Homo sapiens: one gene and its partners. The protein of the gene in region 1 purifies or fractionates together with the protein of each later gene. This does not show direct contact. Each region holds a gene or a part of one and is shown in the gene's direction. Other genes may lie near its edges.

What was found.
Region 2: the proteins of HAT1 (region 1) and ASF1B purify together in Homo sapiens (affinity purification with mass spectrometry; 7 studies listed by BioGRID and IntAct, with this or other methods). This does not show direct contact.
Region 3: the proteins of HAT1 (region 1) and ASF1A purify together in Homo sapiens (affinity purification with mass spectrometry; 5 studies listed by BioGRID and IntAct, with this or other methods). This does not show direct contact.
Region 4: the proteins of HAT1 (region 1) and NASP purify together in Homo sapiens (affinity purification with mass spectrometry; 3 studies listed by BioGRID and IntAct, with this or other methods). This does not show direct contact.

What each region holds. Positions count from the first base shown.
Region 1 is NC_000002.12:171,979,246-171,984,186, forward strand, and holds the end of HAT1 (histone acetyltransferase type B catalytic subunit), read left to right. Parts: intron 1-1; coding exon 2-118; intron 119-3,939; coding exon 3,940-4,107; 3' UTR 4,108-4,441; downstream 4,442-4,941. UniProt on the Homo sapiens protein: Histone acetyltransferase that plays a role in different biological processes including cell cycle progression, glucose metabolism, histone production or DNA damage repair. Coordinates histone production and acetylation via H4 promoter binding.
Region 2 is NC_000019.10:14,126,505-14,135,719, reverse strand, and holds part of ASF1B (histone chaperone ASF1B), read left to right. Parts: intron 1-9,215. UniProt on the Homo sapiens protein: Histone chaperone that facilitates histone deposition and histone exchange and removal during nucleosome assembly and disassembly. Cooperates with chromatin assembly factor 1 (CAF-1) to promote replication-dependent chromatin assembly.
Region 3 is NC_000006.12:118,896,029-118,905,243, forward strand, and holds part of ASF1A (histone chaperone ASF1A), read left to right. Parts: intron 1-4,737; coding exon 4,738-4,853; intron 4,854-9,215. UniProt on the Homo sapiens protein: Histone chaperone that facilitates histone deposition and histone exchange and removal during nucleosome assembly and disassembly.
Region 4 is NC_000001.11:45,586,319-45,595,533, forward strand, and holds part of NASP (nuclear autoantigenic sperm protein), read left to right. Parts: intron 1-4,904; coding exon 4,905-4,952; intron 4,953-9,215. UniProt on the Homo sapiens protein: Component of the histone chaperone network. Binds and stabilizes histone H3-H4 not bound to chromatin to maintain a soluble reservoir and modulate degradation by chaperone-mediated autophagy.

The sequences.
Region 1 (4,941 bases):
GCAACACGCTAGAAGGGTTTATGAAATTCTTCGACTACTGGTAACTGACATGAGTGATGCCGAACAATACAGAAGCTACAGACTGGATATTAAAAGAAGACTAATTAGCCCATATAAGGTAGGACTTTCAAGAATCTTAAACACTGTATTCTTTTCACTGTTTAAAACAGAAGAAAAGCTACCAAATATCAGTATATGAGAGAGTCCAAGTCATTTTGTAAAATTAACTTTTACAAAAGTAGAAATATTCTTCCAGTAATTTATAAAAATTCTCACTCATGGCCGGGCGTGGTGGCCCACACCTGTAATCCCAGCACTCAGGGAGGCCAAGGCGGGTGGATCACCTCAGGTCAGAAGTTCAAGACCAGCCTGGCCAACGTGGTGAAACCCTGTCTCTACTAAAAATACAAACATTAGCTAGGCTTGGTGGTGGGCGCCTGTAATACAGTGACTTGGGAGGCTGAAGCAGGAGAATCGCTTGAATCCAGGAGGTGGAGGTTGCTGTGAGCCAAGATTGCACCATTGCACTCCAGCCTGGGTGACAAGAGCAAAACTCCATCTGAAAAGAAAAGAAAAGAAAAGAAAAAAAACCCGGGTGCAGTGGCTCACGCCTGTAATCCCAGCACTGTGGGAGGCCGAGGTAGGTGGATCACTTGAGGTCAGGAGTTCAAGACCACCCTGGCCAACATGGCGAAACCCCATCTCTACTAAAAATACAAAAATTAGCTGGGCATGATAACACGTGCCTGTAATCCCAGCTGTTTGAGAGGCTGAGGCACGAGAATCACTTGAACCCAAGAGGTGGAGGTTGCAGTGAGCTGAGATTGTGCCACTGCACTTCAGCCTGGGTGACAGAATGAAATTGTGTCTCAGAACAAACAAACAAACTTATCCCAAGGATAGTCTACCATGGTTAGCTTTTCTTTCATTTGTATGCATCTTTAAAAAATCTGAATGCCTAGTCTCTTCCCTAACAAATTATGTTGTTTTTCCCAAGTTTCTTGTCTTCTCAGTTGTTATATATATATATTCTCTTTTTTCTCTCTTCCCAGATAAAAGCAAAGTTATACATATATATTCTCTTTGCTTTTGCTTTCTTCTTCCTAAAAATAGCCTTTATTGCTATTTATTAATATAATCTTTGTACTTTACCATAGCCGAAACCATGTTAGTACTATTATATTTTTAAACATTCTTCTTGCCCTTTTTTCCCACTTCGTCGTCATCTTCCATATTTTCCCTCCTAGATCAAATTGGCCTTATCATTTGGACATTGTCAGGATGGATATTGTTTATGCCACCTTATGTGAATGAAAATTTGCTATCTAGGCAAGGCGTGGTGGCTCATGCCTGTAATCCCAGCACTTTGGGAGGCCGAGGTGGGCAGGTCACCAGAGCTCAGGAGTTCAAGACCAGCCTGGCCAACATGGCAAAACCTCGCCTCTACTAAAAATACAAAAATTAGTTGGGTGTGGTGGTGGGTACCTGTAATCCCAGCTACTTGGGAGGCTGAGGCAAGGGCATCACTTGAACTCGGGAGGCAGAGGTTGCAGTGAGCTGAGATCATACCACTGCAATCCAGGCTGGGCAATGGAGCAAGACTCCATCTCAAAAAAAAAAAAAAAATTTAAAAAAAAAAAAAGGCCAGGTGCGGTGGTTCACGTCTATAATCCCAGCAATTTGGGAGGCTGAGGCGGGCAGATCATCTGAGGTCAGGAGTTCGAGACCAGCCTGGCCAACATGGTGAAACCCTGTGTCTACTAAAAATACACAAATTAGCCAGGCATGGTGGGAGGTGCCTGTAATCCCAGCTTCTCCGGAGGCTGAGGCAGGAGAATTGCTTGAACCTGGGAGGCAGAGGTTGCAGTGAGCCAAGATTGCGCCATTGTACTCCAGCCTGGGTGACGAGCAAAATTCCATCTCAAAAAAGAAGAAAATTTGTCATCTAGTTGCAGCTGAGTAGTGGGATGATTGGCAGAATATTTAATTTATTCAACATATAATTATTGAGTACAGTTGCTCAATGATAAAATGTTGTTGCTGCATTTATATATACTATACCTATAGGGTTATACATCACAATAGCTGGGAACATAAGTGACCAAGTTGATTCTACATTACAATTTGAGAAAGTAAATTAACTAACTGTATCAGGTACACATAGTTTTGGTTTTCCTTTGTAAATTTAAAGAAAATTTAAGTTTTATTTGCCATGGATTCTGCTTTATAGAGCCAGTCTTGAATGCTGATGGTTCATTGGCTGACACTACTTGCTGAATCCCAACTTTTCCTTCATAGCATCTTTTTACTTTGCAGTGCAACTGTATTTCCTAATTTGTCATTGTAATTCTGTTCACATTCTGAATATAAAATTATTATTTGCCTATGACTAAATCATTTTATCTTGAATTCATACACAGATGTATGAATAGTTCCTCATAGTGTCATTTCATTGCAGTTTAATAGTTTTTCTATTTTACAGACCATCATCTGCATATAGCAGGTTTGTAATAAATTATAATGGTCTCCTCAAAAGTTATCCAAAGTAGCATTTTATTATTTGATGTTATCAATTCAGAAACATCAGAAAATGGGTAAAAATGGTATTTTCCAAAGGTTTTGACCTTTAAGTAATATTTGTTAGCTAGAAAATGTCTTAATGATGAAATTTGGGCACAGAGAGCAGTATAGATGGCAACATTTAAGAGTTATTAAGATTTTACTAAAGTAAAATAATTTATTGAATTATATATTTTAGATATTAATGTGACTTTTATATAAAATATAACAAATGAAAGATGGAAATTCTGAGTACAAATAGTAGTCACACAGCTAATGCCAAATAATGGGAACCTCTGTAGTTCATAAGTGCAAGTATTTTCTACTCTTAAAGAATGATAATTCTTTTTTATATTATTATTAAGTACCTTTACCTGTCCAGCCAGTTCACCAGTCTAAAAGGCCAGAACTGGGCCGGGTGTGGTGGCTCATGGCTGTAATCCCAGCAGTTTGGGAGGCCAAGGTGGGTGGATCACTTGGGCCCAGGAGTTCTAGAACAGTATATCCGAAACATGAAAGCTTCATATTTGCAATAATGCCACCCAACCAGGAATCCTGGAGTTATTCTTCATTCTTCCTTCCTCATATCACCCAGTATTTTCTCCCCTAAATCTGCCCTGTCCTCTCCATCTCTGCTGCTGCTGACTTGATCTAGGCTTTCATCAACTCTGGCTTGAACTACTGCAGTAGCTGCCCAGTCCTCCAGTCCCATCCTAAACATCTCTGACACAGTGTCCTGCATAAAAGTTGTTATCAGCTACCTGTTGCAAACTCCTTAGCATAGCGGTATCCTAAGTCAAACCAGGAGGGTTTAGTATGATAATGTATGTCTGGAACTTAATAAAGACTCAAATGCTATTTAATATATTTTTAAAGTATAGCAGTTTTCCATTTGTCTTTCTGAAACATTTCTAACAGTTTATGTTAAAATTAGCATGTGGCCCGTAAGTACTTCACTGGGTGGAATTTAAAATGTAATTAATTAATGACTGAATAGTAAAATGAAGAATAATAGCACTTAATCTCAGTTGTCTTTCTTCAGCTAATGTCTTCTATCTATTAAGCAAATATTTGAGTGTCTATACTGCCCAGAGTTCTTTAAAGTTTTGGAGGGGGCTGCTAGTCACATGTCTGTATTTACCATCATTGGACACAAATACCAGGTCTTCTTGTTAACTCTTTTTAGAGGGTTTGCAATTCATGGTTAACATTATGTTTAAGCTTCCTTAAAAAACAAAACAAAACAAAAAAAAAACATTGTGGGACAAGTTTGGGCGTATTCATACTATTCTTATTTTTAACATTGGAGACTTAAAATTGTAAGACTATAAGGAAATATATTTACTTTCTTCGTCTAACAAATAATTGTTTGTCACTTAGAAAAAGCAGAGAGATCTTGCTAAGATGAGAAAATGTCTCAGACCAGAAGAACTGACAAACCAGATGAACCAAATAGAAATAAGCATGCAACATGAACAGCTGGAAGAGAGTTTTCAGGAACTAGTGGAAGATTACCGGCGTGTTATTGAACGACTTGCTCAAGAGTAAAGATTATACTGCTCTGTACAGGAAGCTTGCAAATTTTCTGTACAATGTGCTGTGAAAAATCTGATGACTTTAATTTTAAAATCTTGTGACATTTTGCTTATACTAAAAGTTATCTATCTTTAGTTGAATATTTTCTTTTGGAGAGATTGTATATTTTAAAATACTGTTTAGAGTTTATGAGCATATATTGCATTTAAAGAAAGATAAAGCTTCTGAAATACTACTGCAATTGCTTCCCTTCTTAAACAGTATAATAAATGCTTAGTTGTGATATGTTAATGTGTGATGATATGATTCTTAAATACTTACAATAAACCTCATTCTTAAATACTTATCATTCCTTCCACACTTTGCTTCTAAGATTTTACATCTGACACCTTTAAAACATTTCTTTAAGGTTATCCTGGTAATTTTATTTTTTCAATATGATTTTTCTTTCTTTTTTAACTTTTAGATTCAGGGGTACATGTGGAGGTTTGTTACATAGGTAAACTAGTGTCTTGGGGGTTTCTTGTACAGATTATTTCAACACCCAGATACTAGGCCTAGTATCCAATAGTTAATTTTTCTGCTATTCTCCCAACCTCCACCTTCAAGTAGGCCCCAGTATCTGTTGTTCCCTTCTTTGTGTCCATGTGTTCTCATCATTTACTCCCACTTGTTAAGTAAGAACATACAGTATTTGGTTTTCTGTGCCTGTGTTAGTTTGCTAAGGACAATGGCTTCCAGCTCCATCCATGTCCTGGCAAAATACATGATCTTGTTCTTTTTTATGACTGCATAGTATTCTGTGGTGTGTATATACCACATTTTCTTTATCCAGTCTGTCACTGA
Region 2 (9,215 bases), on another chromosome or scaffold:
ACCTCTCACCCAAGCTCCTCTCTCCTTGCCGTGAAGACCCTCCCCTCCAGTAACCTTTTTTTCCTGTGAAAACCCCTCAACCCCTTTTCAGGACCTCTCTCAACCCCATCTTCCCATTTGTGTCCCACCAGTCCCCTCCCCAACCTGCCAATATTTCAATAACCCCACGCCCACCAGTTGCTGCCGCTTTTCTGCCCCAATGCACATACCCTGGAACCTGGTTTCTCTCCTTCGTTGGGGCCCAACCCCCCTATGCTTGAGCTCTCCCTGGGAAAGGATGCTACCGTCTTTGAGGGGAACTTTGTCTCCCCAGCTCCCCTTCCCCACCTTTCTCTGTGGGCTTGGATAAACACACTGAGATCCGAGGGGTGGCATAGCCAGGCAGGCATTAGCTAGTTCTCCAGGTTTGCCCACCCGTTTCCAGCTGAGTTACTGCAGCAATTTTTCTGTCACTTTTTCTTTCTTCTTCTTCCTCTTCTTTTTTTTTTTTTTTTTTTTGAGACAGTCTCACTCTGTTGCCCAGGCTGGAGTGCAATGGCACGATCTCGGCTCACTGCAACCTCCACCTCCCGAGTTCAAGCGATTCTTCTGCCTCAGCCTCCCGAGTAGCTGGGACTACAGGCGCCTGTCACCACGCCCAGCTAATTTTAGTATTTTTAGTGGAGGCAGCGTTTCACCATGTTAGCCAGGTTGGTCTCGAACTCCTGACCTCAAGTGATCCACCCGCCTTGGCCTCCCAAAGTGCTGGGATTACAGGCGTGAGCCACCGTGCCCCGTCTTCTTCTTTTTTTTTTTTAATATAGCTGGATAATCAGTGCCAAGCTCCCGTTGCTTTTGATGGTCTGACCTAGTCTGGGGGGTGGGTGGATTGGGCTGAGCTGTGACGGGCTCCAGCTTCAAACAGTCGGCTGGAGCTTGGAGGTCACAGCCTCCTGTACATCTTTTCCAAGGTGCTTCCGTAGATGTACTTATTAATCTGTGTGACTTAAAGGTGGGCATGGCTCTCATCTCACAGATGAGAAGACAGGAGCCACAAAACGCAAAAGACCTTTCAAGTCAAGGCCTGTACAAATCCAAAATCTAAGGTCACCTAGGGAGCCTTGGCACCACTAACAGGCAAGTCCTGCTTTCAGGAAGAAGTACTCCATTAGGCCATTTTTCTACTTGGTGGTTGAAAGAGAAAAGGCAGCAGCCGAGGAGGTGGTGATCTGGGGGCCTGTGAAGCCAGGATATGCTAACTAGTGCCTCTCGGGGGCAGGTAGGTGTTTTGCCCTCAAAGCTGGTCGCCTGGACTAGCTTGGAGCTGATAGAGTGAGATGTGGATGTGCTTTGGGTAGGCCAGTGGGTCTGTCTCTCCCCGGTCTCTCTCGCTCCTTTTTAAATTAAGGAGTCTACTTGTGGCTAACTATAGAATATGCCGAGTTAAATCCTTTCTGGAACAAGGCAGCGGGTAAATAAATAAATAAAGTGTAGAATGACGCTGTGGAATAAGATTTAATTTAAAAGCCAGGAGGAGATGGAAGGAAGTAATAGGTTGAGGGATTCCCAGCTCCCCGACGGCAGGAGATCAGGTTTCAATCAGCCTGTTTGTGTTCCTTGCATTTAAAAATGGTTGTGGCCGAGCGCGGTGGCTCACGCCTGTAATCCCAGCACTTTGGGAGGCCGAGGCGGGCGGATCACGAGGTCAGGAGATCGAGACCATCCTGGCTAACACGGTGAAACCCCGTCTCTACTAAAAAACACAAAAAATTAGCCGGGCGTGGTGGCGGGCGCCTGTAGTCCCAGCTACGCGGGAGGCTGAGGCAGGAGAATGGCGTGAACCCGGGAGGCGGAGCTTGCAGTGAGCCGAGATCGCGCCACTGCACTCCAGCCTGGGCGACAGAGCGAGACTCCGTCTCAAAAAAAAAAAAAAAAAAAAAAAATGGTTGTGCGGTCATTATCTGGTACTTCTACTCCTAGGAAGCCCCTGCCCTGTGACTTTACTAACTTATTTATAGAATTAGAGCCGGAAGGGCTAAATTCAACCTGCTGGTCCTTTTTTTGTTTTTTTGGAGATGAAGTCTTGCTCTTGTCCCCCAGGCTGGAGTGCAATGGCGCGATCTTGGCTCACTGCAACCTCCACCTCCCAGATTCAAGCGATTCTCCTGCCTCAGCCTCCCGAGCAGCTGGGATTACAGGTGCCTGCTATGACGCCTGGCTAATTTTTGTATTTTTAGTAGAGACGGGGTTTCACCATCTTGGCCAGGCTGGTCTTGAACTCCTGACCTCAGGTGATCCGCCCGCCTCAGCCTCCCAAAGTGCTGGGATTACAGGCGTGAGCCACTGCGTCCAGCCTCTGCTGATCATTTTTTAATAGAAATGGAGTGACTTCACCAGAGTCACACAGCCAGTTTGTAGAAGTATTGGCACTGAAGTTTTGAATCTAAATTCTTTATCTTTGCTCCAATCCAGGGAAAGAAAGGAAGGATTCCCTGTTTCAGGGGTGGAGCATAGATAGGAATGACCACAGAATTTATTGCCTAATCAGGACACTCAAAATGCAGTGAAGGGAAGTGCTATTATTATTATTTATTTATTTATTTATTTATTTATTTATTTTTGAGATGGAGTCTCGCTGTGTCACCCAGGCTGGAGTGCAGTGGCGTGATCATGGCTCATTGCAAGCTCCGCCTCCCGGGTTCACGCCATTCTCCTGCCTCAATCTCCCAAGTAGCTGGGACTACAGGCGCCCGAAACCATGCCCAGCTAACTTTTTGGATTTTTAGTAGAGACGGGGTTTCACTGTGTTACCCAGGATGGTCTCGATTTCCTGACCTTGTGATCCGCCCGCCTCGGCCTGGGATTACAGGCGTGAGCCACCGTGCCCGTCGTATGATTATGATGATGATGATGATTATTATTAGAAATGGAATCTCACTATGTCACCCAGGCTACAGTGCAGTGGTGCAATCTCAGCTCACTGCAATCTCCACCTCTCGAGTTCAAGCGATTCTCCGGCCTCAGTATCCCAAGTAGTTGGGATTACAAGCTTGAGCCACCATGCCCGGCTAATTTTTGTGTCTTTAGTAGAGACGAGGTTTCACCATGTTGGCCAGGCTGGTCTCAAACCTGATCGCAAGTGATATGCCCACTTCAGCCTCCCAAAGTGCTGGGATTACACTTTGAATCCTAAGCGCCTGGCCAGAGAATGCTATTGTTAATTGTACCTGGATGATAAAGCTTTTCCTTTGAGTAACTCAAGTGAGAAATCCTGGCTCTTCCAGTCCTAGGGCTCTCTGTGACTGATCTGCCAGCTTGCTTTCTGCCTCCTTCTGGACTCCTCTCCATGAAAAAGGGAGAATCTGCCTCACTCTCAGCAGCGTCAACTGAAAATCTGACAAAACCCCCAACCCAGCTGTGTGAGGTGGCTCATGCCTGTAATTCCAGCACTTTGGGAGGCTAAGGAAGGAGGATCTCTTGAGCCCAGGAATTTGGGCCAGCCTGGGTAACATAGCAAAACCTTGTCTCTACAGAAACATCAAAAAATTAACGGGACTTGGTGGCACGTGTCTGTGGTCCCAGCTACTCAGGAGGCTGAAGTGGGAGGATTGCATGAGCCCAGGAGGTCAGGGCTGCAGTGAGCCATGATTGCACCACTGCACTCCAACCTGGGTGAGAGAGCAAGACCCCCATCTCAAAAAAAAAAAAAAAAAAAACCACCCTAACCCCTAAGCCCCAGTTGGGTGACCCCTATTTCTCAGGGGCCCCAAGCCCCCTTTGCACTTTTATCTTCCACATCTGGAAATAGATTCTTCCACATTTAGCTGAGAAATTCAACAGACACTGGTTGAATAAGTCATAGAAGCCAGATGTTCTGACCCAGAAATAACGAAGTTGTTATGGCAGCAGAGCTCATCTTTGATTATGAACAAAGGCAAAAAGCAAACAAACAAAGGAGGCCTGGCATGGTGGCTCACGCCTGTAATCCCAGCACTTTGGGAGACCAAGGCGGGCAGATTACCTGAGGTCAGAAGTTCGAGACCAGCCTGGCCAACATGGTGAAACCCCGTCTCTACTAAAAATACAAAAAATTAGCCGGGTGTGGTGGCGGGCGCCTGTAGTCCCAGCTACTCGGGAGGCTGAGGCAGGAGAATGGCGTGAACCCAGGAGGCAGAGCTTGCAGCGAGCCGAGATTGCACCACTGCACCCCAACCTGGGCAACAAAGCAAGACTCCATCTCAAAAAAAAAAAAAAAGAAAAAGCCAGGTGTGGTGGCTCACACCTGTAATCCCAGCACTTTGGGAGGCCGAGGCGGATGGATCACAAGGTCAGGAGTTCGAGACCAGCCTAACCGACGTGGTGAAACCCCGGCTCTACTAAATACAAAAATTAGCCAGGCATGGTGGCACGCAGCTATAATCCCAGCTACTCAGGAGGCTGAGGCAGAAGAATCGCTAGAACCCGGGAGGCAGAGGTTGCAGTGAGCTGAGATTGTGCCACTGCACTCCAACCTGGGTGACAGAGCGAGACTCTGTTTCAAAAAAAAAAAAAGAAAAAAAAAATGGCCAGGCACAGTGGCTTACCCCTGTAATCCCAGCATTTTGGGAGACCAAGGCAGGTGGATCATCTGAGGTCAGGAGTTTGAGACCAGCCTGGCCAATGTGGTGAAACCCTGTCTCTACTAAAAATACAAAAGTTAGCCAGGCTTGGTGGCAGGTGCCTGTAGTCCCAGCTATTTGGGAGGCTGAGGCAGGAGAAGCGCTTGAACCCGGGAGATGGAAATTGCAGTGAGCCCAGATTGCGCCATTGCACTCCAGCCTGGGCGACAGAGCAAGACTGTCTCAAAAAAACAACAACAAAAAAGCAGGAAGCAGACTTTTTAGCTAGTTCAGCTATACTAATTGTGTACATGTCTTTAGTCTTATCATTTATATATATATATATATATATATACACACAAACACACAGTGGAGGTATGTCTTGCACAGGGACTAGCTTGTGAAGTTAGCGCAGAGAGATAACATGGGACACAGTTGAGTTGCCTTGACATTGCTCAGAAGGTTAGGTACACACGTCATGTGTACAGCTGTGTCCTGTACTCATAGCTATGAGTTCCTGCTGTATTGGTGATTTGTGTCCCATGTATAATTCTAAAGAAAGATTATATTTAGAGATGAAATCATACACGTATGTCTCTACTTATAACACTGCAGCCAGATTTTTTTTTTTTTTTTTAAAGAGATAGGGTGTCACTATGTTGCCCAGACTGGACTTGAACTCCTGGGCTTAAGCAGTCCTCCCACCTCAGCTTCCTAAGTAGCTGGAACCACAGGTGCACATCACCATGCCTGGGCACTTCAGCAAATTTAAGATGATTCTCGACTGGGCATAGTGGCTCATGCCTGTAATCCCAGCACTTTGGGAGGCCAAGGCAGGCGGATCACAAGGTCAGGAGATCGAGACCATCTTGGCTAACACAGTGAAACCCCGTCTCTACTAAAAATAGAAAAAAAAATTAGCCGGGCGTGGTGGGGGGTGCCTGTAGTCCCAGCTGATTAGGAGGCTGAGGCACAAGAATGGCATGAACCCGGGAGGCGGAGCTTGCAGTGAGCCGAGATCGTGCCACTGCACTCTAGTCTGGGCAACAGAGTGAGACTCCATGTCAAAATAAAATAAAATAAATTAGAATTACAGGTGCACACCACCACGCCCAGCTAATTTTTTATATTTTTAGTAGAGATGGAGTCTCACTCTGTCACCCAGGCTGGAGTGCAGAGGCACGATCTCAGTTCACTGCAACCTCAGCCTCCCGAGTAGCTGAGACTACAGGGGCATGCCACCACGCCTGGCTAATTTTTTGTATTTTTTGTATCACCATGTTGCCCAGGCTGATCTCGAACTTCTGAGCTCAAGCAATCCACCCGCCTCAGCCTCCCAAAGTGCTAGGATTACAGCCATGATCCAATGATCCACCTCACCTGGCCCTATACCTATAACTCTTTTTTTCTTCCTTTCTTTCCTTCTTTCTTCTTTTTTTTTTTTTTTTTTTTTTTTTTTTTTTTGACGGAGGCTGGCTCTGTTGCCCAGGCTGGAGTGCAGTGGCAAAATCTCGGCTCACTGCAATCTCTGCTGCCTCCCAGGTTCAAGCAGTTCTTATGCCTCAGACTCCTGAGTAGCTGGAATTACAGGTGCACACCATCATGCCCAGCTAAATTTTTATATTTTTAGTAGAGATGGGGTTTCACCATGTTGCCCAGGTTGGTCTCGAACTCGTGAGCTCAGGCAATCTGCCTGCCTCGGCCTCCCAAAGTGCTAGGATTACAGGTGTGAGCTGCCGTGCCCAACCAGCTTCTGTAACTCTTGAGTCAGTATTTCTCTACAGCCGTTAGTTAATTCTCCAGTTTCTTTCCAGCCCTGGTTGAAAGAGCCATTTCAGCCCCTGTGCCTGACAGTCAACACAGTACATTTTTTCTTTTTCTTTTTTTTCCTTTGAGATAGGGTCTCTGTCGTCCAGGCTGGAATGCAGTGGCTCGATCATGGCTCACTGCAGCCCTGAACTCCTAGGCTCAAGCGATCCTCCAACCTTAGCCTCCCGCATAGCTGGGACCACCGGCACGCGCCACCACACCCAATTAATTTTGTTGATTTTTAATAGAGTCGAGTCTGCCTATGTTGCAGGGGCCCATTTATTTCGGTGAGTTTCCACATGCTCTTTGTTTAGGTTTTGCCGATTAGTATTGACCTCAGCTGGACAACATCAGGTGCTCGTGGGTACACTTTAGTCTTTTTTGTCTACCTTCCCAGGACATGAATTAAATGCACCCGTACAGGATTCTACCGGCTATGAGAGGAAAGGGCTCAAGGATATACACCAAAATGATACAACTGCTTTAGAAAGGAGAGAGCAGGGCTGGCTGGCTTTTCTGTCTTCCCCCAAAACTTGATTCCAGTTGTGTCACTACTTGTAACAAAAATAAATCAACAGGCTGGACATGATGGCTCAGACAAATTCCAGCACTTTGGGAGGCCAAGGCGGGAGGATTGCTTGAGACCAGGCTGGGCAACCAAGCAAGACCTCATCTCTAAAAACAATTTAAAAATTCCCTGGGCGTGTGGCACAAGCCTGTGGTCCCAGCTACTTGGGAGGCTAAGGCAAGAGAATCACTTGAGCGCAGGAATTTGTGGCTGTAGTGAGCTATGATTATGCCACTGCACTGCAGCCTGGGTGACGGACCGAGACCCCATCTCCAGTGAAAAAAGTCAACTTCCTCCCTGCAAATAGTAAGAGGCTAGTTCGACCAAACACCTGTGAGTTCAATGGTCACCCGTATCCTACAGACCTGCTATAGGGTTCCTGAGTGAAACCACAAAGGGACAGGCAGCCAGTGCATCAAAGAAGGGCATGGGGCTCAGGTGACAAGCCTCTGTAGTCATGACCTGGCAGCAGCATGCTTCCAAAGTTGGATGCTCTTGTGGGACACTGGACCAAGGAACAGGGCAGCTTCTGAGAGAGTTTGCTTCCTGTGAAAATCACAGCTTGTGAAACTTCCCCCAGCTGCTAGAGCTGAAGGGTTGTGTAATTTCTAAAGAGCCAAAAATAAGTTTCAAGCCTCTTGCCAAGCCTCCCTGTACCAGCATGACCTTGCCCCTGATACACTTGGACCTCCTGCAAGAGGCCATGTTGACCGGAATTTCCTGTGATTGACAGCCAGAGGTTCCATAAGCACTTTCCTTTCATCTCAATGGAGCATATTCAGGGGAGGGGGCCCTCCTGCTGGATGGGGTGCAAGAGTTAGGGTTTGAGGCTGGGCACGGTGGCTCACACCTGTAATCCCAGCACTTTGGGAGGCGGAGGCGGATGGATGACCTGAGGTCAGGAGTTCGAGACCAACCTGGCCAACATGGTGAAACCCCATCTCTACTAAAAATACAAAACATTAGCCGGCTGTGGTGGCGGGCGCCTATAATCCCAGCTACTCAGGAGGCTGAGGCAGGAGAATCACTTGAACCCGGGAGGCAGAGGTTGCAGTGAGCCGAGATCTCACCATTGCACTCTAGCCTGGACAACAAGAGTGAAACTGTCAAAAAAAAAAAGTGTTTGGAGGATCACCCCGGGATGCCACATTTGTTGACTGAGTTGCCCAAATGTCTCTAAGTAGGCATGACTTGGTGCCAGATCTGGAAGACCAGGGTGGCTGGCTCCCTGAGCAACCTCACCTTCCCCCTCCTGCAGGCTGGCTCTCCTGCCGGATTGGAATCTGCCACCCTGCCCCAGTTGTCGAGGGATCCACTTCGTTGAGTGGCACCGGTCCCTGTGTGTGAAAGAGGATGCTGCTTCCTATCCCAGCACCCAGTGGGCAGGGCCCTGAAATGACCCAACTCCCTGCCGTTCCCTTCTCAGCACGTCTGTGTCACGTGGCTCTTAATTCAGCCTCTGCCATACAGTTCACGCTCAGGCCTTGAGAGGCCCAGGTTTCCCCAGAGGTATAGTCAAGGTCACCTGTCATAGCTAGGCTTACAAGACAGAATTCCCTAATGGAGGTAGAGCTTTGTGCCCACCTCAGCATTCAAGACTGCAGTGCCTGGCACTAAGTGTCTGACAGATGGAATAATAGTCTTTTAACATATTAAGGATCTGTCTAAAATTACCACAAGGCTGGGCACAGCAGCCCACACCTGTGATCCCAACATGGTGGGAGTCCGAGGCAGGAGGATCGCTTGAGCCCAGGAGGTTGAGGCTACAGTGAGCCATGAACATCCCGCTGCACACCAGCCTAGGCAACAGAGGGAGACTGTCTCAAAAAATAAGTAAATAAAAATAAAATAGAAGATGTGGCCGGGCGCAGTGGCTCACACCTGTAATCCCACCAGTTTGGAAGGCTGAGGCGGGCAGATCACTTGAAGTCAGGAGTTGGATACCAGCTTGGCCAACATGGTGAAACCCCATCTCTACTAAAAATACAAAAACAGGCCAGGTACAGTGGCTCACACCTGTCATCCCAGCACTTTGGGAGGCCAAGGCGGGTGGATCACCTGAGGTCAGGAGTTCTAAACCAGCCTGATCAACATGGTGAAACCCTGTCTCTACTAAAAATAAAAAAATTAGCCAGCCATGATGGCAGGTGCCTGTAATTCCAGCTACTCAGTAGGCTGAGACAGGAGAATCGCTTGAACCTGGGAGGCAGAGATTGCAGTGAGCCAAGATCACACCATTGTACTCCAACCTGGGTGACAAG
Region 3 (9,215 bases), on another chromosome or scaffold:
ACATGTGCCCCCGTTTTTTTTTTTTTTTTAAACCTATATAGAGCATAAATGCACATACATATATAGGGCAAATTTTGAAAGATGATTCATTTATTAAAATAATTTCAAATAGGCCATTGATAACACTAAGGGGTATTTTTCTTATTACTCTGAAGTCATTTGATTACTCTCCTATGATACTACTATTAATATAAGCATTGCAGCTACCAGGCCCATTTTTCACACCCAACAGTAATTTTTTTTTTATTGCCAACTGCATATAAAAATAGACAAAAGAAAAACCATTGATCGGTCCATTCCAACTTATACCACACTGTTTTTCAGATATACCACCAGAAGTTCTTCAAATTACAGGTATTTCTCAAGTGTTGCCTTCCATTTTAGGAGTCAGCTCTGAACAAAGAAGATAGATGACTCAGGATGTCGTTACAGGGCTTTTACATTGCATAGATGAAACCAGCCATTCATAAAGCCAAAACGTTCCATTTTTAACTGGGATCCATTCAGAACCCAGCTGAATCACATCAGGGATTTACAGTACTGGTGTCAAAAACATACTTATTTCCAATGGTATATTTCACTTCCTAGGCACCATTACTGAGCATTTATTTAGTATTTTAAAAAATATTTTAAGCTGAGTCATACTGAAGCTGCAAAGGAATCTTTCAAAAAGGTGCCATGCCTGTATACTCCACCTAGAGGCTATGTGGATTAAGGAAATTTTTACTTAGCAAAGGCTTCTAATAGGTTCCATACTTTTATATTACAGTTCTTTTAAAAATTCTGTTCTTAAAATTAAACTATAGAATTTTTTTTTTTTTAAATGAGACAGTGTTGCTCTGGCACTCAGGCTGGATGGAGTACAGTGGTGCAAACACAGCTGCTCCCTGCAGCCTCAACCTGGGCTTAAGCAATCCTCCCACCTTAGCCTCCTGAATAGCTGGGACCATAGTCGATGTGCCACCACATTGGGCTAATTTTTTAATTTTTTGTAGAGACGGAGTTTTGCCATGTTGCCCAAGCTGGTCTCGAACCCCTGGGCTCAAGCAGTCCTCCCACCCCTGCCTCCCATAGTGTTGTGATTATAGTGAGCCCACTGCACCCAGCCCAAACTATAGAATATTTTGAAAAGAATTTTCTTAATAAGTTATTTTGCCTCAAGTCTCAAAGCAGAGTTTGGCCACCGTTTTTCATACTTTCATCAGTAGCCCCAAACGTTCACTTTCCTTTAAGAGCTGCCCTGTAGCTTTGCTTCAGAAAAAGCCTTGAGGAATATTTGGTCTTAAGATAATTTGGTTCTTTCTAATATAGGGCTTATATCAAGGGTTAAGACAGCCTGAGACCCTGGCTGGATGTGCTTGATGGTCACCAAGACTGTACAAGTTTTGATTGACCATCCTGCCATTCTTAAATTTATATATATATATATCTTAATTACAGCTACTGTCAATTGAATACTTATAATATACCAGAATTGAGCATGGTGCTTCATACTTTCCAACTTCAGCTTGTTCTAATTCCAAAGCCTACATACTTTCCACTAGACCACAGGTCTTCCCAAGTAGTGTAATTAGCTAAAAATTCTCTTGATGACTTCCCTCATTCACTCACTCTTTCACCACAAATGTAAATACTTTCAGGCTGGGTAAATCATTTAATCATGATTACTGTGATTAAATAAAAGTTAACTTTAAAATAAATGAACAAATTTCTTCACCTGAGAACTTATGTAAAACATCTGACCTTACCCTTCCTCCCTCAAATACAGGGGGCAGAGGAATTAAATGAAAGCTGGGTTAAAAAAAAAAACAACAAAAAAACTGATGCCAATGTATAAAAGGGTATTGAGCATGTAAAACTCAGCAACTGTAGCAAGCATCCCATAAACATAAAAATCAATGTACAAGTGTTCCCTGAGTTGCAGCCTGTTCTTGTTAAGGCTAGATTCTCTCTCCATCTCCTCTGCTCTCACTTCCCCTGCAAATAAATTCCCTTATTCCACTGCTAATTTCAGAGCTAGAAAGAATTTATCTTCCCAGTTAGGTTTTCAGAAGAAGCCCGGGGTTTGTAGTTACAGAGGCATAGCTTGGATTCTGATTCTTTGATGTACAAATTATGAATTTGTGTAGATTACTTAACCTCTCAGAGTCTCAAGTTATTTGCATAATGGGGATAATTTGATCTACATGATGAAGCTGTTGAGGTTTAAACAATAGGTATGAAGTAGAACTAATGCCCAGTATATAGTAGGTATTTTCTAAAATAGGTTTATAAATTATGGCTATGTTCCTATGCCAGTCCACAAATGCGAATTTATACCACTTAGGATCAAGGGCATTATATGTAGTGATACAATTATATATGAAATTAAAATTCATGAAAACCTTTATGTAATAATTTTTTTTTTTTTTTTTTGGAGACAATCTCGTTCCATTGCCCAGGCTGGAGTGCAGTGGCGCGATCTCGGCTCACTGCAACCTCCGCCTCCAGGGTTCAGGCGATTCTTGTGCCTCAGCCTCCCGAGTAGCTGGGACCACAGGCATGTGCCACCCCTAATTTTTGTACTTTTAGTAGAGATGGGGTTTCACCATGTTTGCCAGGCTGGTCTCGAACTCCTGACCTCAAGCCATCCAGCCACCTTAGCCTCCCACAATGCTGGGATTACAGGCGTGAGCCACTGCGCCCAGCCACTCTATGTGATAATTCTTAGTCTTATCCTCACTTGGCTAGTTTAGTACCTTTCACATCACTTTCTTAAAACAGTTTCTTCACTTGGCTTTTGGGTCACCTACCTCATTTGCCACTTGTTTTGTAACTTAATTTGTCCTCTTATCTTTGGAGGGCTCAAATCTCACTCCCTAGAGCAAGCCCATGTATTTTTATGGCTTTACATATCATTGACAGGTTCCAAATTTTTATCCTGCCTATTCAGTATCTCTGCTTAGAAGCAGACATCTCAAATATGTCTAAAATGAACTCCTGATTGCTCCCCTACCCCACATCACCTCCCTGCAAAAGTGGCTCCTGCTGCTTTCATCTTCAGGATTTTATCCAGAATATAACTGTTGCACAGCCCCATGGCCACACGAGGTCCATGCCACCATAATTTCTTGCCTCAATTATTGAAATATTGTTTCTTCCCTTGTCCTCTTACACTCTATATTGAACACAGCAATCAAAGCATTCCTTTTAAAATGAAAGTTGGCTCCTGTTACTGCTCTGCTCAAAACCCTTCGATGGCTTCCCATGCCACGCAGTGTGAAAGCCAGAGTCCTTATGATGGCCTTCAAAACCGCATGATCTGGCTGTTCCCCTCATCCTCAATCATAGGGTTTGGTGCTTTCCTCCTTCCTTTCATTCTGCTCCAGCCCTAGCCTCCTTGCTTTTTCTTGCCAAGTGTGCCCTACCCCTGGGCCTTTGTATTTGCTGTTCCCTCTGGCGAGATACTTATATTGCCTACTTCCTCTCTATCTCCATCAACAGATGATCTCAGGAGATGTCAGATGCAGCACCCTGCATCTGGAAGTGTGCTGGAAGCTGGAAATAGAAATGGTTTAGTTCTAGGACAGAGCCATGACATAATAGGTCCTCAGAAAATGATTGCTGACTTAATAAGAGAAAATAAAAAAGGAGCTTTCAGTTGATTGTAGTTTACAATACAATATAAATAAGCAGTACGTTACTATTTCTATTATCAATTTAGGGAACAAAAATATCTACAGTTACACAAAAATGGCCACACATGGTGGCACTAACTAGATTGTCATGAGTGACCCAGAAACTCACCCTTTGGGAGTGCTTGTGTAACAGTGTGTTGAATGCAAGAGGCAGGCCACACAGTGCAAAATACCCAAAGAAGATGAAGAGGTCTCTCAGAGATGGTTTGTATTACAAAGTTATCTTCTTCCTCAGCTAAACAGGAGACTCCTCCAAAGAGTTCTACTCATCTCTGGGTTCACTTCACAGAACACATTGTAAAACATGCTCAGTAAAATCCGCTATATTGAATTACATATAACGCCTTGAATTGCACCTGAATGTCTTTTCCTCCTGCCTATCTCCACTGTGTATACTCTATTGTATCACGTGGTGTAAAGATCTTGGTTTCCTCTGCCCAATTTAAAGAATGTATGACACAGGGGGGTGCCGTAAGGGAAAAACCCTACCATTGTTCGTTGACAGTTGATGAGCTGAAGCCACTTACTTCTGAGCCATGAGGGAGGTTTTACTAATAATTTTTCTACTTTGGAGCTCTGTGATTATTTGGATCTCTGCAGCGTAGTATAGGGCTGCCCTTCCAAAGTGTGTTGAGAAGGGCCTTAAAAGATGATATACAAAAAAAGGGGGATTCCATAGCCAAATAAATTTGGGAAGTGCTGGATTAATGTTACTGGTGTTCTTTACTGAAGGATATCTCAGAAAACTTACTGTGCCAGCATGCTTTATGAATCCTCAAGACAAGGTTTACAGCATTTCCCAAGTGTTTGGCTATGTTATCTTGTTTGTGAGGCACTGTCCAGGAACTAGTGTTTCACAAAAGAGTATTTTGAGAAACTCTGATCAAAGTGTGAACTCTGGTAGGAACTTTATAAGGAGCATTTCACTGCCTTTCTGGATTGCTATGAGAAGCCAATTTTAAAGCCAGTAAGTGGCTAAGTGGACATTAAAAGGGTCTTTGATGTCATCTGGTAATGTAATTACTGAATATGAAATAATGCTTTGGTTTTTTAACCCTAGACTTGGAATGGAAAATTATCTATGTGGGCTCTGCAGAAAGTGAAGAATACGATCAAGTTTTAGACTCTGTTTTAGTGGGTCCTGTTCCCGCAGGAAGGCATATGTTTGTATTTCAGGTAAGATTAATCTTGGTAAATGTGTATGCCAAATATGTTTCGAAGTAGACTATATTATCTATTATCTTATAACCCTTATCCCTTTCCTTTTGGGTTAAAGAACTGCTTCTGCTGCATTCACTTTAAATCTGTTTCCATCATGTTTTAGGCAGTCTCTGTGTCACAGAGGAACTCTTACTTCCTGGTTTTATATGCTGAGAGATGTTAATGTGACGTTTACTTTAGAGAGATGAACAACCTACAGTAAATTTTATACTGTATCATGGCACACAGGGTGGTGAATTTGGGGCTCTTCCTGTGAATAGCACCTCAGTATCAGACTTCCAAGGTGGCTGTCTAGCAACCCAAAACATGGATTCAAAATATCTAAAACTAACTGGCATTGTTAGTAATATGCATCTTCAGTTTATGGTTTCAGCCACTGGAACTGATGGTGATGTAACAAAAACAACTTTATTTCAGCATAATCAGTAGTTGAGCTAGGTTAACAGATACGTTTAGTGGATAGAGATGTGTGGTCTTGGGTCATTGGAATGACATTCCAGAGTTTACTAAAGCATCTTATAATCTACATTATCTTATAAGAGGACTACTTTTGCAAATTTACTACCCCACTAGGTATTTGTGAAGAGAATTTCTAGTAATAAAAATTTTGTTCTTAGATACCACTGAGAGTATTTGGATCTATACCAAGGCTTCAGACATTGTCTTCTATATTCAAAAGTGTTATTTCTTTTAATCCATGTTAAATTGCTATATGGAACCATTCAGTTATTCCTCAATTATGCATGCTTATTTATAAGGGAGATGTTTGTAATAGACCAAAGAGTAACTAGCCATAGGTTTTTTAAAACTACTATTAATTTCTGTTACAAGTATTTCAACCCAGCAATGTCCCATCAGTTAAGTGGAACTCACTGAAAAGACTTAATCCAGAAAGAAAATCTAACTCTTCCTATGCCTGACCTCTGTTTTCTCACTTCACAGATGGGACCAATTTAAATGAATACCATTGGTCAAATAATCCCATCAGAAACTGGCAAAGAATCACTTAGACACATGCCATCTCTAGAGCTGCTACCTTTCCCTCCCCTGTCCTAAATACAGAATTTAGAATCTTGGTTTCCTAGCCTTAGTACTTTTGATTAAAAAGCAACAAATAATTTACTGTATCTAAAGAAATAGCTAAGAAAAGCTCAAATATACTAATCAAATATATGAATTAAAAGTGCTGTTAATCAAAGTTGTGTGAGTGCATAACCATGTAAAAGACATGGGTAACAGAATGCCCTGTTCTGTAGAAGGAAGCACTGCAGTTATAGATATAGGTCAAATCCCGACACCTCTGTATTAGCCATGTGTGGCTTTACCTCTCTAACCTCCTCCCTTAGTCATTCCAGTCTTCTATAAAATGTGGATAATATTCTATCTCATTAAAATGTTATGGGGAATAAAACAGTATAATCAGTCACTCATAAAGAGTGCCCTATTCCTAAAATTAGAACTACATTTTTATTCTCTTAACTTCTTGAAATTGTTATATAAAAAAGCAGGACTTGCTCTGACCCACAGGCCTAAGGAACCCATACTTTACTGATAATTCATGATACAGTAAAAGAAACCTGGGTTGACAGGTACTGATAATACTTTTTTTTTTTTTTTTTTGGCTACTATAAGAACTTACAAATAAATGCCTTGTTATTGAAACAAACCCTTGAAAATCTTTTGTGTTTGTTATTAAGCATACTCCTAAGCTTTTGGCTGAAAGTGCTGTAGCAAAAAAAATGTATTCAAAAGTATTTCCTGCTGGTGATCTTCACGTAGTTTTACCTTGGTGTCAGTGTACATGTTGCCAAAAAGAACAGAGGAGGTACAATGTATATTCAGCCTAAAGGTTTTACAGAATTCACCATTATCAACAGAAAGAGACTAAATTACAGCTTTTGTTTTGTATTTTAAAACTACTATAGTAATCTCTTGGTCTGCCATGATTTTGCCTCTCTAAATAGTTAAACATGTCTTTCTTCTGAGTGAGTCAAAGGCTAGCAGGAAGATGTCCAGACATCTGCCTAGTATTGCCAGCTAGAGTCAAAACAAAGATCTCTGCTCATTACTTCTGCATCCTAAATTATTTGAAAGGCCTGTAAGCTTCTCTACTTAAATTTGCTCAAACTGAATCTTTTTCAAATTGTAAAATGCTTTTTAAAAGATGTTTTATATTTACAACAGATTTTAAAACAGAAACATGCCTAGAACCAATTTACTGAAGGGAACCAATTTACTGAAGGGAAGGGGAAGAGTTCTCATAGCAGTACTGAACTATTATATATTTCCCATCTCCACCCACTTCAGGTATATTAGAATCCGTTTGGGTACACTGAAAGTAATCTAACCCCTCTGTGCAGGGGTGTGTAGAATCTCTAAGACAAACAGCATATTCTCCAGGACAAGGCTGGCTGTCCCCTATCCTGGTGTCTTGCCAAGAGATCATAAACCCCTTCAGGGCAGGAACTGATTTACAAATGAATTCCAAAATACTAAGTGCTCAGAGCTGAGCCACACGAGATTATAAAGATGAACTGGATGGGACTCCTGCCCTGGATAAAGCATAGCATCTAGAAGAGAAGACTGAAAAATAAACATGTTTAGATCACAGGGCATACGTTCTTAGATAATTTGTGACAAGAAATATCAGCACATAAAAAAGGAATCTATTGATTCTACCTTCTGAGTTAGAAAGGGCGTCACTGAGAATACACTCGATGTAAGCTCCAAAAAAGATTAAAAGATGAATTTTTCAGGATGTGAGCGAAGGACCTTTCAGGCCAAGGGAACAGTATGTTAGAAGCACAGGGGGTGAAGTATTTCTTTTTTAAATTTGTTTTTGTAGAGATGGGGTTTCGCCATGTGGCCCAGGATAATCTCAAATTCCTGGGCTCAAGTGATCCACCCACCTTAGCCTCCCAAAGTGCTAGGATTACAGGCGTGAGCCACCGTGCTCAGAGCGTGAAAAGATTATCACCACGTTTTAAAGAACCTGTGTGATTCATATCTCTAGAACAATGGTGGAGTTAAAGGAGGTATGAATGGAGATATTGGCTGGAGACAAACTGAGAAGGGCCTTGTCAATGAAGTTAAAGAACTGAGATTTTATCCCTTAGAAAAGGGAATACTCTTCTGAGGGTTTTAATAATCTGAGGTTTTAAAACCAAAGAGAAAGAACATATCTGTGTTAATGCTGGTAGCAGTGCAAATGATAGGCTAGAGCTGGGGAGATCAGTTAGAAAATTCTAAGCAATATTCCAGATAGGAGATGACATGAATTCAGCCTCCAGAAATGAAAAAAATGTTGAGACTGACTAGATGTAGGAGATAAGGGAGTGAAGCTGACTGAGGTTTTTAGCCTAGGACACTAGGTAGCGATTTTATGCCTTTTTGTATCATCTACCTGTGTTAGGCATACAGTAAACAACAGTCTTCAATTTTCACAAGCTAAGGCATTGGCTAAAGTGCTCATCTAGGCCCAGGAATATTCCTTGGTGCCCTGGCAACAGGTAAGCTAATTTGCTGGGACTTGATCCATTTACCACCCAGAATGGCTGCCTCAGATGCCTCAGCCATCACTGCCTGTGTTCCCCAGTCTGGCTCCTTCCATCCGGTCGTCTCATTACTACCTGCACCCTACCACGGATGGGGCCCTGCCCTTCGCTCATGCTCTTAGTCTAGTCTAACTCAGTTTACTTTCTGCATTCCTCAAGGTTCACCTTACAATAGCTTGATTTAAAACAAGGTCTTTGACATCTGCCTAAAGCAATCCTTACCTTCACTGGTTTCCACATTATGTGTGGTTTAAAGAGCATACTATATTGTAGAGTCTAGCAAAGTAACTATTCATAATAGAGGATTATTAATATTTTTTGAAAATCTGCTATGTAGCTATTTCCATCTCATTTTCAGTTTTGTTTTGTTTTGTTTGAGACGGAGTCTCACTCTGTCGCCAGGCTGGAGTGCAGTAGTGCGATCTCAGCTCACTGCAACTTCCACCTCCTCGGTTCAAGTGATTCTCCTGCCTCAGCCTCCCAAGTAGCTGGGACTACAGGCACCCGCCACCATGCCCAGCTAATTTTTGTGTTTTTAATAGAGATGGGGTTTCATCATGTTGGCCAGGATGGTCTCAATCTCTTGACCTCATGATCCACCCACCTTGGCCTCCCAAAGTGCTGGGATTACAAGTGTAAGCAACCACACCCAACCTCATTTTCAGTTTTATACTAATTTACTATTAGAATACCTGTGGGGGTGGTTGAGTGGGTATGAGAATATAAGTATCCTGGGTTGAAGAGGGAAACTGGTATAATAAAC
Region 4 (9,215 bases), on another chromosome or scaffold:
TGTGTCACCCAGGCTGGAGTGCAGTGATGCCATCTCGGCCCACAGCAGCCCCTACCTCCTGGCCTCAAGTGATTGTCCGGCCTCAGCCTCCCGAGTAGCTGGGACTGCAGGCGCACACCACAAGGCCCAGCTGATTCTAGTATTTATTTTGTAAAGACGAGTTTTTGCCATGTTGCCCAGGCTGGTCTCCCAACGCCTAGGCTCAAGGGATCCACCCACGTGGGCCTCTCAAAGTGCTGAGATTACCGGCGTGAGCCACCAAGCCTGGCTAGTATTTTCATTTTCATTTTCATTCTTCGTTTCCCCATCTAATTAGTGTGAGAGAACATGAAAGCAGTGTGTCTCAGTTAAGTAAGTTAGTGGGGACACTTAGAGGTAAAGTTTATAAGGTCCTCATGTTTAAGGGTAGGATAAAGAAAATGACTTGAATTTAGACTTTAGGTAAGAATGTACATTATAATTCGAGGATGACCATTGAAAGAATAAATATAACTTCCAAACCAGTAGAAAGAAAAAAAATGGAATGAGAAATAAACCTCAGTTCAGGTTTTTTAAATTTAGGAGATGAGGATCTTACTATGTTGCCCAGGCTGGATTCCCAACTCCTAGTCTCAAGCAATCCTTCCATCTCAGCCTTCTGGGTAGCTGGGACTACAGGCATGCATCACCTCGCCTGGCTTAGAATTGGCTTTGATAGCAGCTTCATTGCTTCAGTAGTGATATTGGACCACAGTTTTGTCGTCTGCAAAAAGTCTTAGGTTGGCTTTTGTCCCCTCGTGCCATTAAAGCAGTATTGTTTAAGGTGATGTATATCTACATGCTAAATTAATCCTGTCATTCTTAGCTTTCTAACTAGTTCTTAGTTGGTTTTTTTTTGTTGTTTTTTTTTTGAGAGGGAGTTTTGTCACCCAGGCTGGAGTGCAGTGGCACAATCTCTGCTCACTGCAACCTCCGCCCTCCCGGATTCAAGCAAGTCTCTTGCCTCAGCCTCCCAAGTAGCTGGGACTGCAGGTGTGTACCACCACACCTGGCTAATTTTTTGGGGTTTTGCCATGTTGGCCAGGGTGATCTCGAACTCCTGACCTCAGGTGATCAGCCGGTCTCGGCGTGAGCCACCGTGCCCGGCTGCAGTTATGATTTAATACTGCATCTTTGTTCATTTACATATCTCAACTGTGGATGGTGCCGTGTATGGTCTGTGTGTTTTGATGAATTTTAACTTTTTATAATTTGTATTTTATGGTAGTGAAGAAGACTAGTACCTACATATCTTTTATGCATTGATTACATACATTTTGTTAATTCAACATTTCTAGGCTATGAGGTTTGTCTTGAGTTTTTTCATATATATATATATATATATATATATAATTAATTTTTTGGAGAGAGAGTCTTGTTGTCTTGCCCAAGCTGGAGTGTAGTGGCCAGATCTTGGCTTACTGCAACTTCTGCCTCCCCTGTGCAAGCGATTCTTGTGCATCAGCCTCCCAAGTAGCTGAGACTACAGTTTACAAAAATTAGCCGAGCATGGGTAGCAGGGTCCTGTAATCGCTTGAAACCGGGAGGCAGAGGTTGCAGTGAGTCGAGATTGTGCCACTGCACTCTAGCCTCAGAGCAAGACTCCATCTCAAAAAAAAAAGGGCCAGGTGGTGTGGCTCACGTGGTAATCCCAACACTGTGGGAAGCCAACACGGGCATATCACTTGAAGCCAGGAGTTCGAGACCAGCCTGGCTGACATGGCAAAACCCCGTCTCTACTAAAAATACAAAAATCAGCCAGGCGTGGTTGCGCATGACTGTAGTCATTCAGAGTCTAACTCCGTTGCTCAGGCTGGAGTGCACTGGTGCGATCTAGGCTCACCGCAGTCTCCACCTCCAGGGTTCAAGCAATTCTCCTGCCTCAGCCTCCCAAGTAGTTGGGATTACAGGCGCCCGCCACCACACCTGGCTAATTTTTGTATTTTTAGTAGAAATGAGGTTTTACCATGTTGGCCAGGCTGGTCTCGAACTCCTGACCTCAGGTGATCCACTCACCTTGCCTTTCCAAAGTTCTGGGATTATAGGCGTTAGCCACCGTGCCCAGGCTACACTTCTTTTTTTAAAATTAATTTTTTGAACTAGAGAAGGGGTCTCATTTTGCTGCTTAGCCTGGTCTCAAACTCCTAGCCTCAAACAGTCCTTCTGCCTTCCAAAGTGCAGGGATTATAGCTGTGAGCCTAGCCTTGAATTTCTGTTAGCAATGTATGGGAGTACAATTTCTCCTTAACCCTATCTTTGACTATTCGATGGGTAAAACATACTTTCTAAGTATAGTTTTTTTGTTTCTCTTAAGAATGAGCGGCCGGGCGCGGTGGCTCACACCTGTAATCCAGCACTTTGGGAGGCCGAGGTGGGCAGATCACGAGGTCAGGAGATCGAGACCATCCTGGCTAACACGGTGAAACCCCATCTCTACTAAAAATACAAAAAAAAAATGTAGTCCCAGCTACTTGAGAAGCTGACGCAGGAGAATGGCGTGAACCCGGGAGGCGGAGCTTGCAGTGAGCCGAGATCGAGATCGCGCCACTGCACTCCAGCCTGGGCAACAGTGCGAGACTCCGTCTCAAAAACAAAAGAATGAGCAGTAGCAGGTGGTCAAGTGTTTGTTTGTTTGTTTGTTTGTTTGTGAGTGTTTATATTAAATCCATTAATCTATTCCCATTGGGCTTTTTTATCCTGTTGACTAAGATTCTATGTATATTTGCTAAGTTAACCTTTTGTGAAATGAATTAGATGGAGTAGAATCTGTCAATATCCTATGGTTTCTGGTTTGTTTGTTTATTTATTTGAAACAAGGTCTTACTCTCTCACCCAGGCTAGAGTATAGTGGTATGATCATAGCTCACTGCAGCCTCTATCTCCTGGGCTCAAGCAATCTTCCCATATCAGTCTCTGGAGTAGCTGGGACTACAGGCATGTACCACCATGCCCATCTCATTTTATTTTTGGTAGAGATAGGTCTCGCTGTGTTGCCCAGGTTGGTTTTTGAACCCCTGAGCTCAAGCAGTCCACCTACCTAGGCCTCACAAAGTGTTGGGATTACAGGAGAGAGCCACTGCACCCAGTCTGGTTTCTGGGTTTAAAACGGCCTTCTCCAAACAAATTACCAAGTAATTTCCCTATCATTTCCTCTAGTACTTCTCTGGATTCATGCTCATTCTAAAAATTCATAATGAACGTCATAAAACTATGAAGCCATAGCTTCATAGTTGTAAATGTAGTGACTATTAGAATTAACATTTTAAAAAATAACTGGATCAGGCTGGGCGCAGTGGCTCACACCTGTAATCTCAGCACTTTGGGAGGCCCAGGCGGGAGGATCACTTGAGGTCAGGAGCTCGAGACCAGACTGGCTAACATGGTGAAACCCCATCTCTGGTAAAAAACAGAAAAATTAGCCAGGCGTGGTGGTGGGCGCCTGTAATCCCAGCTACTTGGGAGGCTGAGGCAGGAGAATGGCTTGAACCCAGAAGGCAGAGGTTGCAGGGAGCTGAGATGATACCACTGCACTCCAGCCTGGGCAACAGAGAAGGACTGTCTCAAAAACAAAACAAAACTGAATCAGACATACCTATTGCCCAGATAGGACATGAACATCCATTTATAATTTTTATTCTGATCCAGTAGTCCTCAGAGCATGGTTCTAGAAACCAGCAGTGTGTCACCTGGGCAGTTGTTAGAAATGCAGATTCTTCAACCTTACCTCAAACCTTCTGACTCAGAAACTGTAGGGGGTGGAGCTCAAACTGTTATAACCGTTCCTCCAAATGGTTTGCATACAGACTAAAATTTGAGAAACACTGCTTTAATTCATCTTTTTTTCCAACTATACAAGTACTGCCTTAGTTCACCCTCTTTTCTATTTGTCTAGGCTTGTGCTAAGCAAGAATAGAAATAAATTTATCGGCCGGGCGCGGTGGCTCACGCCTGTATTCCCAGCACTTTGGGAGGCCGAGGCAGGTGGATCACGAGGTCAGGAGACGAGACCATCCTGGCTAACACGGTGAAACCCTGTCTCTACTAAAAATACAAAAAAATTAGCCGGGCATGGTGGCCGGTGCACAGGCACCGGCCTGGCACCAGGCCCAGGCTGAGGCAGGAGAATGGCGTGAACCCGGGAGGCGGAGCTTGCAGTGAGCCGGAGATCGTGCCAGGGCACTCCAGCCTGGGCGACAGAGCAAGACTCTGTCTCAAAAAAAAAAAAAAAAAAGAAAAGAAATTTATCACTGATAAATGCTTTACAATGATACTTAATAGTGTTTTTACTGGTTCCTTGCTTTTAATGGTATTCAATTCAGAGTCTTATATTGCAGTCATAGTGTAACTTTTTTTTTTTTTTTTTTTTTGAGACGGAGTCTCGCTGTGATATCTCCCTGACATTGTATTTAAAAAAACCTGTGTGTTATAGAAGGTTATATAGGGAAATAAAAGACCTAGTCCCTTAACCACAGGTAGTTTGAGAGGCTCTGTGCTAGACCATTTGGTCAGAATGACCTCTTAATAAAACTATTCGATATACATGACTGGCTGTGACGGAGTTTGTAGATAAGGATCCAAGACCATTTCAAGATTCTAGGCAAATGGCCCAGATAGCTTACAACCTGTAGCTGAAAGCACTGCCCTTTAAGTTGTTCCTCATCCCTGTGGTTATAGCTGTGAAGTTGCCACTTATTTTCAGCCCTGGATATTTGAGTGAGTAAGAATTAAATGAATTAAATTTGATAATGTAAGTAAGTAAATAATACTTGAGTATTTAATAAATGACAGCTCTTTTATTCCTTTATATTTTTCTGAATTTATTTTATTTTCAGGCTTAATAATTGCCTCCAGTTTTACATTTTTTCCCCTTTAATTTTTTATTACAGAATTGAAGATGTTCCTGCTCCTTCTACATCTGCAGATAAAGTGGAGAGGTAAGATTATTTACATGGTAGTTAGATTCGTATCAGAAACATAAACTAAGAGCAATATAACTTTAAAGTTATTTTTATTTTTTAATTAATTTATTTTTGATAGAGGCAAGGTGTCGCTTTGTTGCTCAGGCCGAAGTGCAGTGTGCAATCAGGGCTCACTACAACCTTGAACTCCTGGGCTCAAGCAATCTTCCCACTTCAACCTCCTGAGTAGCTAGGACTATAGGCACATGCCACTACACTTCGCTCATTTTTAAATTTTTTGGAGAGATGGGGTCTTGCTATGTTGCCAAGGCTGGTCTCAAACTCCTAGCCTCAAGCATTCCTCCCTGCCTAAGCCTTTCAAAGTGTAGGATTATAGGTGTGAACTACCAGGCCCGTCTCACCTCCTCCCCCTGTAACGTTTCCATCTTGATATGGCTATGGTTTTTTGTTTTTCTTTATCTCAGATCTACACCCGTAGTGACTATGTTTCTTAATCAGAGGTGGGCATAATAATTAACTAAAAAGCTTACCCAAAAGGTAGATGGTAGGTTACATCCCTAGAGATTTCTTGTTTCATTTTTTAGAGACAGGGTCTTGCTCTGTTGCCCAAGCTGGAGTTCAGTGATGTTATCATAGCTCACCACCACCTCGAACTCCCGGGCTAAAGGGATTCTTCTGCCTCAGCCTCCTGAGTAGCTGGGACTGTAGGCATGCACCACCACATCTGGCTAATTATTTTATTTATTTTTTAGACTGAGTTTCACTCTTGTCGCCCAGGCTGGAGTGCAGTGGCGCAATCTTGGCTCACTGCAACATCTGCCTCCTGGGTTCAAGCAATTCTGCCTCAGTCTCACAAGTAGCTGGGATTACAGGCGGGTGCCACTACACCCAGCTAATTTTTCTATTTTTAGTAGAGATGGGGTTTCACCATGTTGGCCAGGTTGGTCTTGAACTCCCGACCTCAGGTGATCTGCCCGCCTTGGCCTCCCAAAGTGTTGGGATTACAGGCGTGAGCCACTGTGCCCACCCGAATTATATTTTTCGAAGCGGAGTCTTGCTTTGTTGGCCAGGGTGGTCTCCAACCTGGGCTCAAGCAATCCCCCTGCCTTGGCTTCCCTAAGTGTTGGGATTACCAGCCTGATCTACCATGCCCAGCTGATTTTATTTGTTGAGCTTGAGATAAAATTTGGGTTCATGTGTTATGGAAAAGCTTTCTGATAAGATTGAGAATTATTACTGTTAGAATATCTTACAAATATTTTGTTTGTTTGTTTTTTGAGATGGAGTCTCACTCTGTCACCCAGGCTGGAGTGCAATGGCATGATCTTGGCTCACTGCAACCTCTGCCTCCCGGGTTCAAGCGATTCTCCTGCCTCAGCCTCCCAAGTAGTTGGGATTACAGGCACCCACCACCATGCCCGGCTAATTTTTGTATTTTTAGTAGAGACAGGGTTTCGCCATGTTGGTCAGGCTGGTCTCGAACTCCTGACCTCGGGCGATCTGCCCGTCTTGGCCTCCCAGAGTGCTGGGATTACAGGCGTGAGCCACCACACCCGGCCACAAATACATTTTTTAAGCGTCCATAGGGTTTTATGTTTTTCATGTTTGAAATCCTGTTGTCATCTTGGTTATTTAACCCTTTTCCCATTTGCCCTGAGAATACTTGCTGGTGGTGCTTGGGGCTGCTGCATTTACCCAGTGAAAACTGCCATGAAATAGCTCTCCTTTATTATTATTTTCACATCACTCTAATATATAGATTTTGGATAAAAAGACATCATTCTGTTTATAGCACTCTGTTTTTAGTAATGGTTATTTCCATTTACAAAATAGGGTAATTCTCGATTGCTGTAAATGTCAAATCCTAGAAAACGTAGCATTCCTATGTATGATGTTAACATCATTCTCAAATGGTTGTTGGCCAAAGATTCATTTGATGAATCCAATTTTTATGAAATAGGCGATTCTGATATTAGTTGTGTTTAGAAATAACTCCGGCCAGGCAGGTGGCTCATGTCTGTAATCCCAGCACTTTGGGAGACTGAAGTGGGCTGATCACTTGAGGTCAGGAGTTCAAGACCAGCCTGGCCAACATGGTGAAACCCTCTCTCTACTAAAAATACAAAAATTAGTTGAGCGTGGTGGCGGGCGCCTATAATCCCAGCTACTCGGGAGGCTGAGGCAAGAGAATCACTTGAACCTGGGAGGTGGAGGTTGCATTGAGCCAAGATTGTGCCACTGCACTCCAGCCTGGGTGACAGAGTGAGACTGTCCCCCCCCAAAAAAAAAAAAAAAAAAAACTCCGAGAACAGTTTTATATTTTTATTTTCATGCTGAAAGTCAGATTTGCTTCAGCTTCAAAGAACATGTTTATGTAAAATTAAATGAGTGCTGGCAATGAGCTGTACTTTTTTTTTTTTCTCTTAAACGGGAAAAGGGTTAAAATAAGTCTTATGAAATACTGCTTGGCTGGGTGTGGTAGCTTACACCAGTAATCCCAACACTTTGGGAGGCCAAGCAAGACCTCCATCTCTGAGAGGATCACATGACCCCAGGAGTTCGAGACCAGCCTGGGCAACATAGCAAGACGCCATCTGTACAAAAAAAAAAAATTTTTTTTTTAATTAACTGTTCGTTGTGGCACTTGCGTGTGGTCCCAGATACTGGGGAGGCTGAGGTAGGAGGATTGCGGAAGCCCAGGAAGTCGAGGTGGTGGTGAGCTATGATCCTGCCACTGCACTCTAGTCTGGGTGACAGAGTGAGACCCTGTCTCCAAAAAAAAAAGGAAAGAAACAAAATAGGGCTAGGCGCGGTGGCTCACGCACTTTGGGAGGCTGAGGTGGGTGAATCACCTGAGGTCAGGAGTTCAAGATCAGCCTGGCCAACATGGTGAAACCCCGTCTCTACTAAAAAAGATACAAAAATTAGCCGGTCGTGGTGGCTAGCGCCTGTAATTCCAGCTACTTGGGAGGCTGAGGCAGAAGAATCACTTGAACCCGGGAGGTGGAAGTTGCAGTCAGCCAAGATCACGCTACTGCACTCCATCCTGGGTGACGAGCGAAACTCTCAAAAAAAAAAAACAAACAACAACAAAATTTCTTGTGAGTTAATCTGGTATTTGGGTGGTATGAATACTGAATACTGTTTAGGGTTGATCCTAAACACAATACTTTCAAGGGGGTTACTCATAGGATGTACCATAGTATTTAAGTTTCTGGACTGACTAAATGTAGCTAGGCTATCCAAAACACAGTGCTTGATATGTAATCATCAGTATTAAACTTCACTGCCCAGGTTGGAGTACAGTGGAGCGATCGTGGCTCACTGCAGCCTTGACCTTCCCTGGGCTCAGGTGATCCTCCTGCCTTAGACTCCTGGGTAGCTAGGATCACAGATGTGTGCCACTATGCCTGGCTAATTTTTGTATTTTGTTTTTAGAGATGAGGTTTCGTCACGTTGCCCAGGCTGGGGCTCAAGCCATCTTCTCACCTCAGCCACCTGAAGTGCTGGGATTACAGGTGTGAGCCACTATGCTTGGCATAAGCATTTGATTTTTAGAGGACCAGAATATTCTGATTCTGAGAGAAACATGAAGGATGGTTGGAAAACACATTATTAGTCTCACCTTAAATTTATAACCTCTGACCTGAAGTGGGTTTTTAGTTTTGATTGGCAGTTATACCGCATTTCTCCGGTCAAGTTGTTTTCCCATTCTGCGGAACTGCTTAATCTTTCCTTCTTTTTTTTCCCCCCTTGAGTCAGGGTATTGCTCAGCCACTCAGGCTGGAGTACAGTGGGTCCTGATCCTGGCTTGGTGCAGCCTCAAACTCCTGGACCAAGAGATACTCCTGCCTCAGCCTGCCAGACTAAGTTTTGTGTGTGTGTGTGTGTGTGTGTGTGTGTGTGTGTGTGTGTGTGTGTGTGTGTGTGTGTTTTAGAGACAGGGTCTTATTATGTTGCTCAGGCAGGTCTTGAACTTCTGCCCTCCCTATGATGCTCCCTCCTTAGCCTCCTGAGTTGTTGGAATTACAGGCATGAGCCACTGCACCCAGCTGATCAACTTTTTCTTTATATATTCTTAAACATTCAACACCATACCCGTCATCTTGCTTTTACCTGATGATTTTCCTTTGTTTTATATTTGGTTCTGGATTTTTGTTTGTTCACTGAATAAACAATATGAAGAGAAATTTCTTAACACTGTGCCATAAATCTGTGCCCATATAGTCTCTCCTTTTGAATGCCTGTTCATGCTCTTATTCAGCAGTTCTCAAAGTT